Linked DNA regions of Homo sapiens. The protein of the gene in region 1 interacts with the protein of each later gene in a biochemical or structural test. Each region holds a gene or a part of one and is shown in the gene's direction. Other genes may lie near its edges.

Evidence for each region.
Region 2: the proteins of TFDP1 (region 1) and E2F6 form a complex in vitro, tested with the Homo sapiens proteins (one study listed by BioGRID).

Annotation. Positions count from the first base shown.
Region 1 is NC_000013.11:113,587,520-113,591,333, forward strand, and holds part of TFDP1 (transcription factor Dp-1), read left to right. Parts: intron 1-3,814. UniProt on the Homo sapiens protein: Can stimulate E2F-dependent transcription.
Region 2 is NC_000002.12:11,455,982-11,459,795, reverse strand, and holds part of E2F6 (transcription factor E2F6), read left to right. Parts: intron 1-1,443; exon of another isoform or gene 1,444-1,503; coding exon of another isoform or gene 1,504-1,515; intron 1,516-2,562; coding exon 2,563-2,617; intron 2,618-3,814. UniProt on the Homo sapiens protein: Inhibitor of E2F-dependent transcription. Binds DNA cooperatively with DP proteins through the E2 recognition site, 5'-TTTC[CG]CGC-3'. Has a preference for the 5'-TTTCCCGC-3' E2F recognition site.

The DNA of each region.
Region 1 (3,814 bases):
TGTCTCCCAAGCTGGAGTGCAGTGACGCGATCTTGGCTCACTGCAACCTCTGTCTCCTGGGTTTAAGCAATCCTCTCGCCTCAGCCTCCCGAGAAGCTAGGATTACAGGCATGTGCCACCATGCCTGGCAAATTTTTTTGTATTTTTAGTAGAGATGGGGTTTCACCATGTTGCCCAGGCTGGGCTCGAGCTCCTGACCTCAACAATCCACCCGCCTTACAGGCGTGAGCCACCGCGCCCGGCCTAGCTAACTCTTTTAAGTAGAGGTGTGACATTTGAGTTTTGAAAAGATGATGTTGGCAGCTTTTGCAGAAGGGAACATCGATAACCAGTTAGGTGTTTTGTTTTTGTTTTTTGAGACGGAGTTTTGCTTGTTGCCCAGGCTAGAGTGCAATGGCGCGACCTCAGCTCACTGTGACCTTGGCCTCCTGGGTTCAAGCAGTTCTTCTCCTCAGCCTCCCAAATAGCTGGGATTACAGGCGCGCCACCACACCCAGCTAATTTTTTGTTAGTAGACACGGGGTTTCACCATGTTGGCCAGGCTTGTCTTGAACTCCTGACCTCAGGGGATCCACCCACCTCGGCCTCCCAAAGTGCTGGGATTACAGGCGTGAGCCGCTGTGCCCAGCCCACCAGTTAGGTTTTTAAAAGCACTGGTACTGCAGTAAAACCACAGGTGTATGTCAAAAGCCTTTATGCTGGGGGAAAGCTGTGCCACTTGGGTTGAAGGAGGCAGGCCTCCAGCTTCTAAGTGCCCTGGGGCCTCTGTAGAGGGCCATGAGGGGCCACAGGATGCAGGGAGCTGGAGCTAGGCCCTGGTAGTCACCATGGAGGAGGAGAAACAAGGACATCCAAGACCTGAGGCTGGAAGGTTCTGGAGAGAACACAAGAGAAAAACAACTCCGGAGCTTCCAACCTCAAGTAGGGCACAGGGAGACAAGCGGGTGGGAAAAGGCCACAAATGGCTCCATGTGAGTGAGGGGCAGAAAGAAGAGGATGAGGTCAGTCCTCTGGGGGTGTCATCTTTGAACAGCAGTTGACAGGCAGTGGGTGTGAAGGTCTATATGGCAAGGAGCTACACACGAGGGAGGAGAGAGGTACTCTGAAAAGTTTGCAGAGTGGGTAGGAAATGACTGTGGAGCAGTGAGGAGAGTGATCAGTGATGGTGTAGTAGTTAGAGAGTGAGTGGTGGTGGACTTGATGGAGAGTGAGTGGTGGTGCTGGAGTGGTGGAGAGTGAGTGGTGATGGTAGATTGGACGGAGAGTGAGTGTGGTAGACTCGGGGACAGTGAGTGGTGATGGTAGATTGGATGGAGAGTGAGTGGTGGTAGGACTGGGGGAGAGAGAGTGGTGATGGTGGTGTAGGTGGAGAGTGAGTGGTGATGGTGGAGTTGGTAGAGTGAGTGTGGTGATGGTGTTGTGGGTGGAGAGTGAGTGATGGTAGTGTTGTGGGTGGACAGTGAGTGGTGATGGTGGTAGACTGGAGGAGAGTGAGTGTGGTGATGGTGTTGTGGGTGGAGAGTGAGTGGCGGTGCTGGAGTGGGTGATGTAGGGTCACAGAAGGAGGAAACAGCCTAGAAGGTGGCTGCCTTTGATGGTCCTTGAGTGGGCCCAGCTGGAGAAATGGTGAGAAGGATTAGGTTTCTGTTGTCTTGCTCAGGGACTTTTTATTTTATTGCACTTATTTGAATTAAAATGGTAAATTCAAATGGAATATTTGTGTTTATACTCTGTTAAGTGGGAGAATGTGGAGAACAGGAGTCAGCTGCCATACGGCCACCTGGCTGGCTCCGGGAACCTGAGGCCTGGTCTTGCCCAGCAGGAGCGCTGGCATAGCATGGATCACTTACAGAAATTTATGATCAAGATTATGGGCTGCTCCTGGCAATATGGGGAGGATTTCCTTGCTGTGGGGACTGTCTGTTTCCATGCCTGGCCCACCCGGTCTGTGATAGCCTCAGGTGCAGTCCTGTCTTAAGTTTGGAGACACCCTGGGAGGTCCGTACAGACTCTTTGAGTTTCTGAACTGTCCTCGAAACATCTCAGGCCCTCCGCCTCAGGGCCTAGGGAGGCTGTCCTCTGGTTCCTGAACAGGGTGGCTCTGACCCGCAGATCTGTGGGCTCCCGTTGCAGGTACCGGTGGTGCTCGGAACCGTCCTCAGATTCAGTCTTGGAAGGTGCTTTGGCACCTCCTTAGAGTCGGACAGACCCTTGTCACGAGTCAGTCCAGCTGCAGGGGCTCAAGTTGTTCTAGAGCTGGGCTGGCAGGGCCCTTGGGTGAGGGAGTGTGGCTTGGCACTGGCATCTCAGCCTGCGGCCAAGTTTCCTGCCTGCCCAGGCAGCATGACCCTTGGTGGGATCAGGCAGAGCTCTGCCTCTCCCCTCCCTACCTCGGAACATCCTGTCGTCACACACGATTGTCCAGTGTCATGAAAGTTTGTAAGTGGGAAGGCAGGCAGATGATGAATTCATCAAACATTACAGGGATGCTTTTGCTGTAAGACTTCGGGATGTAGCCCGTGTGGGGCTGTTTCTGGGGTCCCGTTCGCCTCTCCAAGCTCCTCCTGCCATTGGTAAAGATGCAGGGCATCTGAACTCGCTCTTGGGCTGTGCGGGCACTTGGACCTGGTCAGCTCCCTGTGCAGAGAACGTGGCTGTGGACGTCACTGCCCGGTATTCACGTGCCTTGGTTGTGAAAGCCGTTCTGTGGTGCCTGTTTGTGTCCTGTGAGTTTATGGGGAAATCCTGAAATTGAGAGCTGGGGACCAAGAGAACTGTGTGCGTCCCACCATGGAGGCGTTTGAGTGATGCTGTCACGAGGCTCTGCTAATGCCAAGAGGGGACCAATGAGCTCCTCTAAGGGTCTACCACCAGGTGTCCTTTTACAGACCTGGATGGTGAAGTTCAGGCCTGAAGAGGTGAACCTGATGCAGCAACAAACTGCTGTTTCCTTCAGTGCTTGAAGGAGTGAGTTCTGGGAACAGGATTCAGCGACTCAGGCCTTCTTTTGTCCTCATAAAGAAACAACTTTACATTTGAGGTTAAGAAGGTTGTCAGTTTAGCCCCCTCAGGTTTAAGTGTTGAAGAAATCTATGATGACGTGCTTGTTTTTACAAGAGTCTTTTCATATTTCAGGATTTTTTTTTTCTACATAGGATGAGGTTAGAGAAACTCTGAAGGGATATTAAAAATTAGAAAATTATAGGTTGGGCCGGGCGCAGTGGCTCACGCCTGTAATCCCAGCACTTTGGGAGGCCGAGGCAGGTGGATCACAAGGTCAGGAGATTGAGACCATCCTGGCTAAGAGGGTGAAACCCCTTCTCCACTAAAAATACAAAAAATTAGCCAGGCATGGTGGTGGGCGCCTGTAGTCCCAGCTACTGGGGAGGCTGAGTTAGGAGAATGGCGTGAACTCGGGAGGCGGAGCTTGCAGTGAGCAGAGATCACGCCACTGCACTCCAGCCTGGGCGACAGAGCGAGACTCTGTCTCAAAAAAAAAAAAAAAAAAAAAGAAAAAGAAAATTATAGGTTAATTAAAAGTTTTGCCCCTGCTGGGCACGGTGGCTCATGCCTGTAATCCCGGAGGCCAAGGCGGGTGGATCACCTGAGGTCAGGAGTTCGAGACCAGTCTGGCCAACATGGCAAAACCCTGTCTCTACTAAACATACAGAAATTAGCTGGGCGTGGTGGCGGGCGCCTGTAATCCCAGCTACTCTCGAGGCTGAGAAGGAGAATCGCTTGAACCCGGGAGGCGGAGGTTGCAGTGAGCCGAGATCACGCCATTGCACTCCAGCCTGGGTGACAAGAGCAAGAC
Region 2 (3,814 bases), on another chromosome or scaffold:
TCTCCTGCCTCAGCCTCCCAAGTAGCTTTTATTACAGGTGCCCACCACCACCCCCAGCTAATTTTTTGTATTTTTAGTAGAGACGGGGATTTCACTATGTTGGCCAGGCTGGTCTTGAACTCCTGACCTTGTGATCTCCTCCCCCCACCCCGCCTCCCAAAGTCCTGGGATTACAGGCATGAGCCACCGCGCCTGGACTTATGTTTCTATCTATATGTCTGTATATGATGTCTGCCACTGAGGGGCAATGGTACTGTTGTGATTCCTCCAAGATAGAGTGTTTTTGTATTTGAAGAGGAAAAAAAAACAAATGAATGCTCTTGGAGACTGTTTTCCCACATACATCAGTATAGCCAATATGTAATGGAACTGCATTGATAGCAAAGAGTGGGGAAAACAAAGCCATCTTTTTTCATATTATGCCTAACTGAGGTGTTATTTCTGTACCAACCTGTGATCCACTGTCTAGATGAGATGGGTAGGGAGGTGTGTAGCAGAGAAGACACCCTAGAATGCATAGCTAGCGAGGCAGCCTCTTTGGGAGCCAGTAAGTAGAGTGTGTAAGTCCTGGGCCTGCTACTCTGAATTAAGAACGGGAACCTCTGCAGCAAGGCCCCTCTGAGCTTATATATAAGGATTTAGGATGTTTGTTTATGTGTGTTTCAAATCAATGTGATAAGGATGGATTTTTTTTTTTTCCATTCAAGAATCTTGCTACCGTAGCTGGCCCGTCTCATACTATTAGCAGAGGGGTTAAATGTAAAAATAGCAATGGCAGTTGGTCACACTTGTCTAATGTCTGACTTTGATAGGACTGCTTCAGAGTTTCACTGTTGGATACCATGTTTGCAAGTCACCATTGTCAGCACTGTTTGAGAGAGCTGGCCAGACCTAGTCCCTACCCCCAAGGCCAGCATTCCCAGCTCCAGTGTTGCATGCCCTAGCAGGTCTACGTGTTCAATTCTAACAACTAAATTAATTTTACAGTGGGATTCTGTCTCAATGGGAGTATTCCATATTGGGGTGATTTGTTAATAGATGCTATCATCTTGTCATAGATGATAAGGAAATCATTGTGCCGAGGATATTGTTAACACCAGTATAAACAAAGAGCTTCTTAACTGCTCACCTTGCCTTCAGGCTTCCTCATTTCCCAGTCCTTTTGCCATATTGCTGCCATACTTATATTTCTAAACCATTTACTTAATTATGTCCTAGTCTGGTTCAGAAACCTTTGGTGATTCTCTACTGGTTATGACATAAAGTCCAAACTCTTTAGCATTAGTTTTATGTGGTGCCAGCATGCCCTCCCAGCTTCAAAGTCAAGTCACTTACACACTGGCCACTTCAGTGGGTTCCCAGAAACATGCCATGCCATATACATCTTCACACCTTTGTTCATTTCCGGTACCACAATCCTGTCTTTTTTCTTCTCTCCCCACAGTTGTTTATTCAGGCAAATCTGGCTTGCTGGGCTAGGCTCAGCTGAGGGCTGCCTTCGCCATGAATCCTTCTGTGAGTTCCCTGTCTGGGTGTATCCCTAGTACTGCTGTTGATTCTCTTCTTAGAGTACCTATGAATTCACTTGCCCCAGTTTTGCTTTATGGCCAGTTTTTTCTTAGATAAGAGCTAAACCTGATGACAGCCTGTCTGGAGGCACATTAACATTGATGTTACTAGGAGTTTCTGTTCATAGGCTTTCATTTTAAGGTTTGGTTTCATTTTATTTATTTTTTACAGAAAAACAGTTTCTAAATGTTACTACCAGTTTTATGCAAACTTTCAGAGCCTCTAAATAGCTGGTAAAATGGTGAGCATTGATAATGGAGCTTCTACTAATTTCCTGGTTGTTTCAGGAATTTAAAAGAAACTTTTTATCTAACGCAAAAGTTTCTAGTTACCCACAGCATGCATTGTTTTCCATTGTTAGAAATGCTGCTGTTTTTACATTAATTATAATGGGAATGCATAGCTGCCTATGAAAGCTTGTGAGCAAATTTTGGGGAACCACGTGTACTTAATAATAGCAAGGAGTGAGCATGTGTTGGTTGAGATAGATCTTCTATCTCTACTAAGCTTTCCCAAGTCAGGGACAGTGTTGTAATGATCGTACCTGATGTATTCAGTATATTTTGTGTGTGTGTGCATGTTTTTTTGTTTTGTTTTGTTTTTTGAGACGGAGTCTTGCTGTGTTGCCCAGGCTGGAGTGCAGTGGCATGATCTTGGCTCACTGCAACCTCCACCTCCTAGATTCAAGCGATTCTCTTGCCACAGCCTCCCAAGTAGCTGGGACTACAGGTGCCTGCCACCACGCCCGGCTAATTTTTGTATTTTTAGTCGAGATGGGGTTTCACCATGTTGGCCAGGCTGGTCTCGAACTCCTCACCTCAGTGATGCACCTGCCTCGGCCTCCCAAAGTGCTGGGATTACAGGCGTGAGCCTCTGCCCAGCCAGTAATTATCATATTCATATTCCCAGACCTTTATACTATTGAGTAAAATGCTATTTGTTTGCATTGTTGTTTTAAAATCACTAAGTTAAATTTTTTATCTTTTTTTTCAGCCATCAAAAATAAGGATTAATTTAGAAGATAATGTACAATATGTGTCCATGAGAAGTAAGTTGATTCCTGAATAGGTTTTAGGTTTTGTTAGTTTGAACTTCTTATGATTAAAATGATTTGTTTAAGTGTATGAGTTGATGAGAAACTGAAATACAATTTGTTATGTGTACACTGAAATGTAAAGTTGCAAGTTTTAGTAACAACTCCTGAGGTTATGGGTTGAATCATGTGCACAAATGCCAGTTTATTCTCCATAGAACAGTCTGTATTTAAGGCTATTTTCTCAGAATTCCTCCTGGGAGAGAAATGTACTCTTTCCTTCTTGTCCCTTATCTTAGGTTAATGTTTAGGGTATCTGTTAGAGGCGATAGGATGTAAATGGCTCTAGTTCCCTCTTCTGGAAGTTTCCATGATAGACCGCCCCACCTCAGCTTCCTAATCTCAGTGGATACATAGTGCATCGATAAGTCAGTGTGAATCTTAGAAATACTCACCCTTAGTTTTGCCTCAGTGCCTGCCCCAGTCTCACCCATAGTTGGTCACTGAGTTTGGTCAGCTTCACCTTTGATGTGTTTCTTGCATCTGTCCCATACCACCAATTTATAATAATATCTAACATTTATTGAGCTCATACAGTGCCTGGCACTGCATTAAGCTCTCTGCATGGATTGTCACAATGACCTTTCAAAATATAGGTATGGATTAGAATTCTTACTTTATAAAGGCCCAGAGAGGCTGAGGTGAGTTGCTCAGAGTCAGGGTTGAATCTCTTACCTCTCTGACGCAAGAGCCCAGAGTCTTTACCACAACGTTGAATTGCTTCTTCTCGTTCAGGGTCTAACTTCCTCTGTAGCTGAAGTTGCTGGGTCTCCTTCTTAGAAGGCAGTCAGCTTCCAGGCTTTCCAACCTGGATGCTGGAAAAATCCAGGGGGATTTGTCTAATACAGAAATTGGATTATGATATCATTCAACCTAAGTTCTTCAGTGACGCTCTTTTACATGTAGAGAAAACCCTGATTCCTTGTATATTTGATTTTAAGTGTTTGCATTAAATTCATAAGCCACTTCATATTAAAAGAAACAAGGCAGTAGAGAATGGGTAGACAGAGCAGACCAGGCCCTTGTAGGCTGTTTCTTGCTTAATGCCGCAGCCTCTTCTTCCAGCATGCTGCCGCCCTCCTCCACAGCACAAGCTACACCACCTGTGATCCCCAAAGCACCCCAGGTTCTCTAAGTCTGCTTTGTCTTCTG